Linked DNA regions of Homo sapiens. The protein of the gene in region 3 interacts with the protein of the main gene of each other region in a pairwise test. Each region holds a gene or a part of one and is shown on either strand. Other genes may lie near its edges.

Region 1 (3,657 bases), on a different chromosome or scaffold from region 3:
ATTCCATTTTGGGTTTTTTAGTATTTTGAATTCTGAATTGCTTATTTCTTTAGCACTTGTTAGATTTTATAATACAGTATAATATTAAATCCTCAAATTGTACTTTTAAAATTTAAGCTAAAATACCCCAGGACTGGTAACTAATACTTTCACATAAAAGTCCTCCTTAAAGGATCTAAGGAACATCTAATCTTGTTTTAGCTATTCTCCACATCCCTAACCCTGGACTTTGCTCAGAAAGAAAAAAAAAATCTGGTTGCCCTTGGATAACTATGGAGGGGCCAGGAAAATGCGTGAATTTGGGCAGCTGTAATAGAACAGAAATGTATATTTTCAAAGTCTCTTTTATCCAGGTGTCATAGAGCGCCTGACGTTTTTTCATCAAAAGATCTGAGTAGTGTAAGCTGATTATCTCTCTTTTTTTTTTTTTTTTGAGACGAAGTCTCGCTCTTGTTCCCCAGGCTGGAGTGCAATGGCGTGACCATGGCTCACTGCAACCTCTGCCTCCTGGGTTCAAGCTATTCTCCTGCCTCAGCCTCCAGAGTATCCAGGATTACAGGCGCCTGCCACCACTCCTGGCTAATTTTTGCATTTTTAGTAGAGACGGGGTTTCACCATGTTGGCCAGGCTGGTCTTGAACTCCTGACCTCAGGTGATCCACCCGCCTCGGCCTCCCAAAGTGCTGGGGTTACAGGCGTGAGCCCCTGTGCCCGGCCTGGTTATCTCTTTTCAATGGAGAAACTGAGACATATAATAATAAACTAATTAGCCCAGCATGATCTGGCAAGAACCCCACTACAGGTCCCAGGTTGTGATTACTGAAACACAACTCCTTCCTATGAACAAACTCATATTCTTTGTGTGTAATGCTAAATAAAAATCTTAGTTTTAAGAATTACTTGTTATAAGTTAGAGATTAATTTTAGGAGAAGCATGCCTTTTACATTTTTGACCTTGGAATTTAAAAACTAAAATGTGGCATTAAAGGTTTTTTTTTTTTAATTAAGAAAAGAGAATTTCTGTTACATCAAGGAAGAAAGGAAACAAGTCAGAAGCTATTTAGTTTTATGTGTGCTGATATATATAGATATCCTTATTCAGATCTCTAAGATGAAACAGTCCAAGGTCAGATACTGGAAGACCAGGAGAGTGTTTTGATCTTGTGGGGAGTGATCCTGACTACATAGAGGTTCTGCAAAGTCCTAGTTCTATCACCTGTATCTTGGCTCAGTTTCCTAACAATGTAATGGATAATACCAAATACTTTCTACAAATTTATTTTTAAATGCTTTGTGGACTTGTGAATACTTGCTGACTGAATCAGTTAAACTTTAGGGACAGCCAAAAATTTGTATACTGTTCAGGTAGCATTTACTGTACTGTAGGGGCCATTTTCCTGATTAATACTTTGGTGGTTTGGGTGTAAGTAATTCTTAGTGCTTCAGGTACACTCAGGATATACATTTGTCAGCAGATAGGAATTAACCATGTTTGTTTTCAAAGAAAGATAAGTAATGTTTCTGTATATATATTTTTTCATTTTGACTTGGATATTTTTCAAAGTACAGGGGCAAACGAGCCACATTTCAGAAATAAGGATATGTTTCACAGTATGTTGTGGTGATTTATACAAACTTCATAGTGAATCTAGTTTAAGGATGAACTCCCTGACTTACCTATGCTTTTATGTTAGGGAAAAAACTGGCTAAAGTTGTTTTAATTGTTATTTATTTATTTATTTATAAGAAACAGGGTCTCCCTCTGTTGCCCAGGCTGGAATGCAGAGGTACAATCATAGCTCACTGTAGCCTCAAACTCCTGGGCTGAAGCAATCCTCCCTCCTCAGCCTCCTGAGTAGCTGAGACTACCGGCATGTGCCACCACACCTGGCTAATTAAAAAAATTTTTGTTTTGTAGAGGCAAGGTCTCACTATGTTGCCCAGGCTGGTCTCAAACTGAACTCCTGGCCACAAGCGATCCTCCTGCCTGCCTCAGCCTCCCAGAGTGCTGGGATTACAGACATGAGCCACTGTGCCTGGTCTAAATTCTTTATTTATAATTTCATATTCCATAATAATAAACATCTTGAGATTAAATATTTTGTTACTAGGTAATGATTTTTTATAGCCATTTACTCTTGATAATAGCTTGATATGATTTGTGCCATAATGGATTTTGTTTTCAGGACTTGTAATATAATTTCATGGGCAGAGAGTATGTTGTTGAACTAAGGCAGTGAGTGGCTCTCAAACTAGCATACATCAGAATCACCTGGACAGTTTAATAAAACCCAGATTGCTGAGCACCATCCCCAGAGTTTCTGATTCAGTAGGTTTGGGCAGGAGCCCAAGAGCTTGCATTTCTAATAAGTTCCCAGGTGACGCTGATGCCGCTGATCTGGGGATAACACTTTGAGACCCACTGAACTAAAGTGAATGAGAAATTTGCTGAAATTGCCTGAGCATGTGAAAGGATCATGCCTTGTGTGCCTTTTAAAAACTGCTGTTTTGACATTACGCTTTTTTTAAAAGGGCGTATTTTTCACCAGAATTACAGAGTACTTAAATTTTGAATGATTATGGTGATGAATATTAATAATAAAATATCAGGGGTTTAAATAGAATGCTGAAATTAAACCATGTAAATTGCAAAAGTACATTTTAAATTCTGAATTACAGTAGGTCTGGTTCGTGGTTAGTCAAACACCTGGATACTTACATGTGTGTTTTTTAGTATGCATTATATGGATGAATATTATAATGGCCTAGCTTCCTGCCTTTGGAGAAATGGAAAAGAAATGTGAAGTGACCTAGTTAAACCATCATTTTAACTTTACCACCTCTCCCAGATTTTCTCAGGCAGATTTCTTGAGTCCTAACTTGGTAATACTTGTGTAACTTTACTTCAGTGATCTCGGGTCAGACCTTGACTGTAAATATACTACACTAAGTAGGTGATTGATTCATCTGAGAACTCTGTGGCATCATTGCCCTCTCTGTCTAGCAGTCAAAGTAAAGTTATTGACAGATCATCTGCTCTCCTAAGTCACTGGATATGGCAGGAGAAAATGAACCCAGAAAACAAAATGAAGGATAGTGAAATGCAGACACCAGTGATGTCTGCAGCTTTCTCTATACCCAGTGTGGTGGAAGGAGAAAAAGGCAGCACTCTTCTTTCTAATTAAATCCGCATAGCACACTTATTTTCTCATTGTTTCAGCTAAGGGTATGCTGCTATCCCTGTATTTGGTAAAGAGAGATAATGATGATTTGTTTTATAAATGACAAAAGAAAGACTGCTTCCTGCTGCCTAATCTGCAGAGGCACAATGATGACATAGAACTTGCTTTCTCCTTTTCCTGAGAATAACTCCTCATGTTGGGTATATTTGGCCCATTGAAGTTATATATAATTCCTATTCTATGAGAATTTGTTTTATACCTTTGTGAATTGAAGAGAACATACATGTCTTGTGTGTTTTGTTTTTATTGTTTAGGAGAAAACTGATGTGGAAGGAACCTTATTTGTTTATACAAGGTAAGAGTGTTTCACTTTTATAAAGAAACTAATCTTCAAAATAATATTTTAGCTCCGTTGTGTCACTCTTCTTCAAGTGCATGCAGTTTTATTTCAAAAAGAAGTAAAAGAATTAAATCTC
Region 2 (3,657 bases), on a different chromosome or scaffold from region 3:
CACCCTCAGAAAGAAAGGAGAAAGGTAAAGTTGGCAAAAGCTACAAAGAAATATTTGTGTACACATTTACTTTTTTTTTTTTTTTTTTAAATGAAACAGTCACTCTGTTACCCAGGCTGGAGTGCAGTGGTGTAATCTCAGCTCACTGCAACCTCTACCTCCTGGGTTCAAGTGATTCCCATGCCTCAGCCTCCCGGGTAGCCGGGATTAAAGGCACGTGCCACCATGCCTGGCTAATTTTTGTATTTTTAGCAGAGACGTGGTTTCATCATGTTGGCCAGGCTGGTCTCGAGCTCCTGGGCTCAAGTAATCCACGCACCTTGGCCTCCCAAAGTGCTGGAATTACAGGTGTGAGGCAGCATGCCGACCTACTTTCATAAATGCAAAGAAAAAGGCCTGAAATAACAAACTGCACTGTTTAATGTATGTGTGTGTTTCACTGGGGGCCCTGGGGGAATAGGAGAAGAGGGTGAGGACTTTAGACCTGAGAATGTACTCACAAAGCTGCTCATGAAATAAAAAGATCAAAGAAAAATTCACATCCTTCACAGATGAATTCAACTAATTATATAGGACAGGAATTAACTAGAAGCATCTTTCCAAAGGCAATCTAACCTCATCTATGATAGATTCTCAGACAATATCAGGAGAGAAAACCCTTCATTATTAGCAAGAAGCAGCCAAACTATATATAAACCAATCTGTTACATGGAAAACATTACACAACCTGCTTAAAAAACTATTTCATTAAAGAATGCTTTAAATGTTTTACGGAGAATAAAAAGAAAAAATCTTTTAGGAAGGTTCACCTGTAGTAAGGGGCAAAAGAAAGTATACTGTCCCAAGTTTGGGGACACAAGGTAAAGGGTTAAACAAAACCAACCAAAAAACAAAAAGAAAACACACAAAAGCTCCCAATTCGACTTTTGTTAGCGGGGGCAAAAAAGGAGAGATGACATATTTCTCTTCAGAAATTTGCCACTACCCACCCCCTTTTTCCTATTCCCATGCCAGGGTACTCGCAAAATTAGAAAGCAGCAAAAAAATGAGATGAATACAGCTTCAGAAAAGATCTAATCAAAACACTGCTAAAGTACTCATGTGCTGAAGATATCAGTTACACACATTCAAACTGATCCTCCCACCAAAAGCTATCACAGTGGTGGGCAAAATAGTGGCTAAGGTGTCTCTGGAGAACTGCTCAGTAGAAAAGTACGCCTCTGTAATAGAGAATATATGATTAGCTCCTATATTTTGGATGAAAGCCCCTCATTAATCCAAATCAAACCCTTCTCTATCAACACACTACAGAACATGACATACAGCGTTTCTGAGGCAATGGGAGGGACAGTGACAGCATTTTTTAACAGAATATAGCAGGTACAAAAAGAAAAGGCATGATACAGCATGGCCTATTTGAAAAATTTTAAAAGTGTCCAGTAGGTTTGGAAATTGGAGAAGCAGTCTTAAGTCCAGGGTCTTGCAACACTAAACAGTCATGAGTCCCCTTCCTGGCTGTGAGCCAAGGAAGACTGGGCAAGGAGCTACGTGATCAGTAAGTGCTCTGAAGTAAGTTAGCTCCAGTGGCAATGTGCAATGTCCCAGGAATGGAGGGGCAACAAAGCAGGAAGAGCAGTGAGGAGACTGACCACTGCAATGCACCAGCTGCAAAGTGAGAAGACATGGAGGGCAAGTGAAAATGGGATCAGACCACAAAGCAGCATTTACTGCAACAACCACATGCTTTCTTGTCTATCTCTTTTCACTTACACATTAGGTAAACCAAACTTCCTTTACATTTTGTGGTATCAGCTAGCTTTTTGGTGTTAATCATAATAATCTCCAAGGCAACAAATAAATCTGGGGCTCTATGAATTCACAACATTTCCCACAATTTAAGAACATTCTCTTTTTAGAGACAAGATAGATACAGGCAAACACAAATAGGAATTAGCATGGGAAAGATGGCCCAAGATAAATCATATGTGGTAATAACACAATTTCAAGAACGATTATGTAAGAAAGAACGTGACTGAAATATGACTAAACCTATAGTGTGTAAAAAACAGAGTATCTAAAAATCTTTAAATTTAAATATTATTTTCATTGCTTTTTTTTTTTTGAGATGGAGTCTCGCTCTGTTGCCCAGGCTGGAATGCAGTGGTGCGATCTCCACTCACTGCAAGCTCCGCCTCCCGAGTTCACGCCATTCTGCTGCCTCAGCCTCCCGAGTAGCTGGGACTACAGGTGCCCACCACCACGCCCGGCTAATTTTTTTTTTGTATTTTTAGTAGAGACGGGGTTTCACCGTTTCACCGTGTTAGCCAGGATGGTCTCGATCTCCTGACCTTGTGATCTGCCCACCTTGGCCTCCCAAAGTGCTGGGATTACAGGCGTGAGCCACTGCGCCCGGCCTTTTTTCACTGCTTTTGAGGCCTGCCTCTTCCTCCTTTCCTGTGTGTGATGGGTTTCTGATTTGCTCTTAAAATCTTGTCATTGGAAATAAGAAAAAGGGATATAAAGATCTTGCGGGGCCTCCAGAGCCACGATGAGAACTTTGGTCTTGATCCTGAAATCGGCGGTACCCAGAGGGGCCACACAGAGTGGGCTGTTGTATTTAGGTTAGTTAAAATGTTAAGTATGGAAGAGATGGACAAGATGGATTCAGAAAAACACACAGGACTTAGATACACAAAGTGAAAAAAAAAAAAAAAGGCAATACAAAGAATTAGATGGCTAAAGTAAGGAAACGTGGGGTGGGTAGATGGGCCCAGGTACACAGAGCCAGCATGAGTTCCTGCTCAAATAAAGCCATTCATTTATCATTAACTCTGTTCTTCCAGTCCTCCAGCTTCAAAAAGAGATGGCCCCTGCTTCCTGCTGAAACTAATGCCCCCCTCCTATAGGTCTCCACTCTTTCTTGTTCCCTCAATGCCCTTGCTCCTAGAAAACAATCTGCCTTCCATTTCAAAATCTGGCTTTACAAATGGACTTTACACTTAAAAATAATCCACCTATGCCCAACCCCCCATCTGAAAGAGAACACTCACAATGATTCTGCTGGACCCTTCTTCAACAGTTTTACCCTTCATATTTGTTTTTCCCAAGGCAGCAGACTATCCCCATAGTCACAACCTTTCACTTTCAGGCTGACTCAGCCTGATTGTCTAGACATTTGTATTTCTCCTAAGTGAATCCTGATGATCTAATCCACTCACAGTAATCCCATGTTCCCAGCCAGTGACTGGTTCAGACAAAAGCATTGTGACCCAATGCTGGCCAAGATGAGAAGTCTACCTGGTGAGGGGTGAGAGTGGCATGGGGTCCCACAGGGGAAATAAACAAACAGTTGTCTTAAAAAGATATGTATTTCCAGCCAATGCACCTATGAAAAAAAAAAAAAAACTATAGAGGAAGAGGCCCTATTACTGCTAGGCACTACTTAATTTGATGAGACACCTAGCTGTAGTCAGCACGGGACCATAAGGGCTAGCAGAGGACAACATGTGGAGGACAGCAGTTTAAAGAGAGAAATGGGGTGGGCACTGTGGCTCACACCTATAATGCCAGCACTTTGAGAGGTCGAGGCAGGAGGATCACTTGAGCCCAGGAGTTCGAGACCGGCCAGGACAACATGGTGAAACCCTGTCTCTACAA
Region 3 (3,657 bases):
TATAAAAAATAAGTTGACTGTAACTGTGTGGATTTATTTCTGGATTCTCTATTCTGTTCCATTGGTCTCTGTCTGTTTTTAAGCCAGTACCATGTTGTTTTGGTTATGTAACTTTGCAGTATAATGCCTCCAGCTTTGTTCACTTTGCTCTGGATTGCCGTAGCTATTCAGGATCGTGTGCGGTTCAAGATAAATTTTAGGATTTTTTTTTTTTTTCTATTTCTGTCAAGAATGTCATCGGTATTTTGAGAGGAGTTGCACTGTATCTGCAGATTGCTTGGGGGTGGTATAGACATTTTAACAATATTGATTCTTCCAATACATGAACATGGACAATCTTTCCATTTCTTTGTGTCTTCTTCAATTTCTTGCATCATTGTTTTATAATAAGTTTTCATTGTAGAGATCTTTCACTGCTTTGGTTAACTTGATTAATTTCTAGGTATTTTATTTATTTGTAGCTATTCTGCAGGGGATTAATTTCTTGGTTTCTTTTTCAGATTGTTTGCTGTCAGTATATAGAAATGTGACTGATTGTATGTTGATTTTGTATCCTACAACTTCACTGAATTTATCAATTCTAATAGTTTTTTTCTAAATATAAGATTATATTGTCTACTAACAAGAGTAGTTTGACTCCTTCCTTTCCCTTTTGGATGCCTTTTATTTATTTCTGTTGTCTAATTGCTCTGGCAAGGATTTCCAGTACTATATTAACAGTGGTGAAAGTGGGCATCCTTGTCTTGTTTCCAGAATTTAAAGGAAAGTATTTCATTTTTCCCCCATTCAGTATGATACTAGCTGTGGGTTTGTTGTTGTTTATTATGTTGAGGTATGTTCCTTCTATACCCAGTTTGTTGAGAGCTGTTATCACAAAGAGATGCTGAATTTTATCAAACACTTTTTCAGTTAGTATTGAAATGATCATATGGTTTTTGTTCTTCATTTTGTTGATGTGTCACAGTTATTGACTGCATATATTTAAACATCCTTGCATACCTGGGATGAATCCCACTTGATCATGATGAATTATCTTTTTAATGTGCCTTTGAATTCAATTCACTAGTATTGTGTTGAAGATTTTTATATCTACTTCATCAGATATATCGGCCTGTAGTTCTCATTTTTTGTAGTGTCTTTCTTTGGTTTTGGTATCAGGGTAATACTGGCAAGTTTGGAAGTATTTTCTCCTCCTCAAGTTTTTGGAACAGTCTGAGTAGAACTCTTATTAGCTCTTCTTTCAGCGTTTGGCAGAATTCAGTAGCGAAAACACCAGGTCCTGGTCTACTTTGATAAGAGGCTTTTTACTACCGCTTCCATCTTGTTAATGTTGTTCTATTCAAGTTTTGGATTTCTTCATGGTTCAATCTTGGTATGTTTTTATGTGTCTCGGAATTCATCCATTTCTTCTAAGTTTTCCAATTTACTGCATATAGTTGCTCATAATAGTCTCTAAAATATTTTGAATTTCTGTGTTATCAGATGTAATGACTCCTTTTTCATCTCTGATTTTATTCATATGGATATTCTCTCTTTTACAGTCCGGCTAAAGGTTTGTTGATTTTGCTTATCTTTTAAAAAAAAAAAACAACTTTTTCTTTCATCCATCTTTTGTACTATTTTTAGTATCAATTCATTAATTTCTGCCCCAATCTTTATCATTTCTTTTCTTCTAATAATTTTGGGTTTGGTTTCCTCTTGCTTTTCTAGTTATTATTTATTTTAAAAATTTGTATAAACGTAAGGGGTGCGAGTGCAGTTTTGTTACATGGATTTATTGCAGAGTGGTAAAGTCTGGGCTTTTCTTATATTCATCACCTGAATTATGTACACTGCATACATTGCAGCCATTAAGTAATTTCTCACCATCTACTCCCTGCCCATCCCCCACCCTTCCAAGTCTCTATTATTTCACACTCTATATCCCTATGTACACATTATTTAGCTCCCACTTATAAATGAGAACATGTGGTATCTGTTCTGAGTTGTTTGCTTAAGATAATGGCCTCAGTTCCATCCATGTTGCTGCAAAAGACATGGTTTCATTCTTTTTTAAAATGTCTGAACAATATTCCATTGTGTATATATACACCACATTTTCTTTATCCAATCATCTGTTGATGGACCCTTAGGTTGATTCTACATCTTGGCTATTGTGACTAGTGCTGCAATATACATACAAATCAGGTATCTTTTTTATACAATTTCTTTTCCTTTAGATAGATACCCAGTAGTGTGACTGCTGGAACTAATTCTTCAAGACACACTGTTAGGTTGTTTATTTGAAGTGTCTGTACTTTTTGGATGCAGGGATTTATTGCTATAATCTTCCCTCCTAGTACTACTTTTGCCGTATCCTACAGGTTTTGGTATGTTGTGTTTCCATTTTCATTTGCTTCAGGAAAATTTAAAATTTTCTCTTAATTTCTTCATTGACCCAAGGGCCATTCAGAAACATAATGTTTAATTTCCATTTATTTGTATAGTTTCCAAAGTTCCTCTTGTTATTGATTTCTGGTTTTATTTCATTATGGTCAGAAAATATACTTGATTGAATTTTAATCTTTTGAATTTTGTGAGACTTGTTTTGTGGCTTAACATTTGGTTTATCCTTGAGAATGTTCCATTTGTTGAGGAAAAGAATGTATATTCTACAGCTGTTGGATGAAATGTTCTACAGATGTCTATTAGGTGAAAGTTATTTTTAATAAACAATGGATTAATAAACATATAGGTTTACTTGTAATATTATATATATATATATATATATATATATATATATATATATATATATATATATATATATATATATATATGTTTCAGAGACAAGGTCTTGCTCTGTTGCCCAGGCTGGAGTGCAATGGCATAATCGTGGCTCACTGAAGTCCTGACCTCCTGGGCTTCCGTCCTCCTGCCTCAGCCTTGTGAGCAGCTGGGACTACAGGCTCACAACACACATGGCTAATTTTATTTTTATATTCTTTTGTAGAGATGAGGTCTTGCTATGTTGCCCAGGCTGGTCTTAAACTCCCAGCCTCAAGCTGTCCTCCCGCCTTGGCCTCCCAAAGTGCTGAGTTACAGGCATGACCCATTACAACTGGCCAATTTTTTTTGTTTTAATTTCAAACACAGTAAATATGGATATAAGTAAACAAAATCTCTTTGGGGTCCTCCAAAAAAAGTGTGAAGTTTCTGAGACCAAAAAGTTTGAAAATTGCTACTGTAGGCCAAGATCCCTGGCTCTATTAGTTTGAGGAATCTTGCCAGGATACCTGCTGCCCAGTTCCTCCCTGTCAGCTTCTCTTAGGGCTTTGGTTATGTATAAATATTAGAGCTAGGGTAAGAAGCATAAATCTATGCTGCTCATAAAGTTAAGAAAAATAGGCCCCATTTTATTTTTTCTAGCTAAACATTTTCAACCAATTTATTTAAGCTTAATGTTAAATAATTTATATAAATAGAACAGTAGTATACTATACCTGTGGCATCCTAAGAAAGGAGAAATCAGGTTGTGGCATTCCAACAAGGGAACAAATTCGAGAAAGTTCAGTTACTGGTGTGGATACAGGAGGGATCTGGCTGGGGGCAGGCCAACACATATTGTCCATAGACTGAACATTATGGTACTCATTAGCACTGTGAGGCTTGTTCATATAA

Evidence for each region.
Region 1: the proteins of XRN1 (region 3) and DCP1B interact in a two-hybrid assay, tested with the Homo sapiens proteins (one large-scale study listed by BioGRID).
Region 2: the proteins of XRN1 (region 3) and WAPL interact in a two-hybrid assay, tested with the Homo sapiens proteins (one large-scale study listed by BioGRID and IntAct).

The regions. Positions count from the first base shown.
Region 1 is NC_000012.12:1,997,814-2,001,470, reverse strand, and holds part of DCP1B (mRNA-decapping enzyme 1B), read left to right. Parts: intron 1-3,495; coding exon 3,496-3,536; intron 3,537-3,657. UniProt on the Homo sapiens protein: May play a role in the degradation of mRNAs, both in normal mRNA turnover and in nonsense-mediated mRNA decay. May remove the 7-methyl guanine cap structure from mRNA molecules, yielding a 5'-phosphorylated mRNA fragment and 7m-GDP.
Region 2 is NC_000010.11:86,438,184-86,441,840, forward strand, and holds part of WAPL (wings apart-like protein homolog), read right to left. Parts: intron 1-3,657. UniProt on the Homo sapiens protein: Regulator of sister chromatid cohesion in mitosis which negatively regulates cohesin association with chromatin. Involved in both sister chromatid cohesion during interphase and sister-chromatid resolution during early stages of mitosis.
Region 3 is NC_000003.12:142,325,955-142,329,611, forward strand, and holds part of XRN1 (5'-3' exoribonuclease 1), read right to left. Parts: coding exon 3,480-3,657; intron 1-3,479. UniProt on the Homo sapiens protein: Major 5'-3' exoribonuclease involved in mRNA decay. Required for the 5'-3'-processing of the G4 tetraplex-containing DNA and RNA substrates. The kinetic of hydrolysis is faster for G4 RNA tetraplex than for G4 DNA tetraplex and monomeric RNA tetraplex.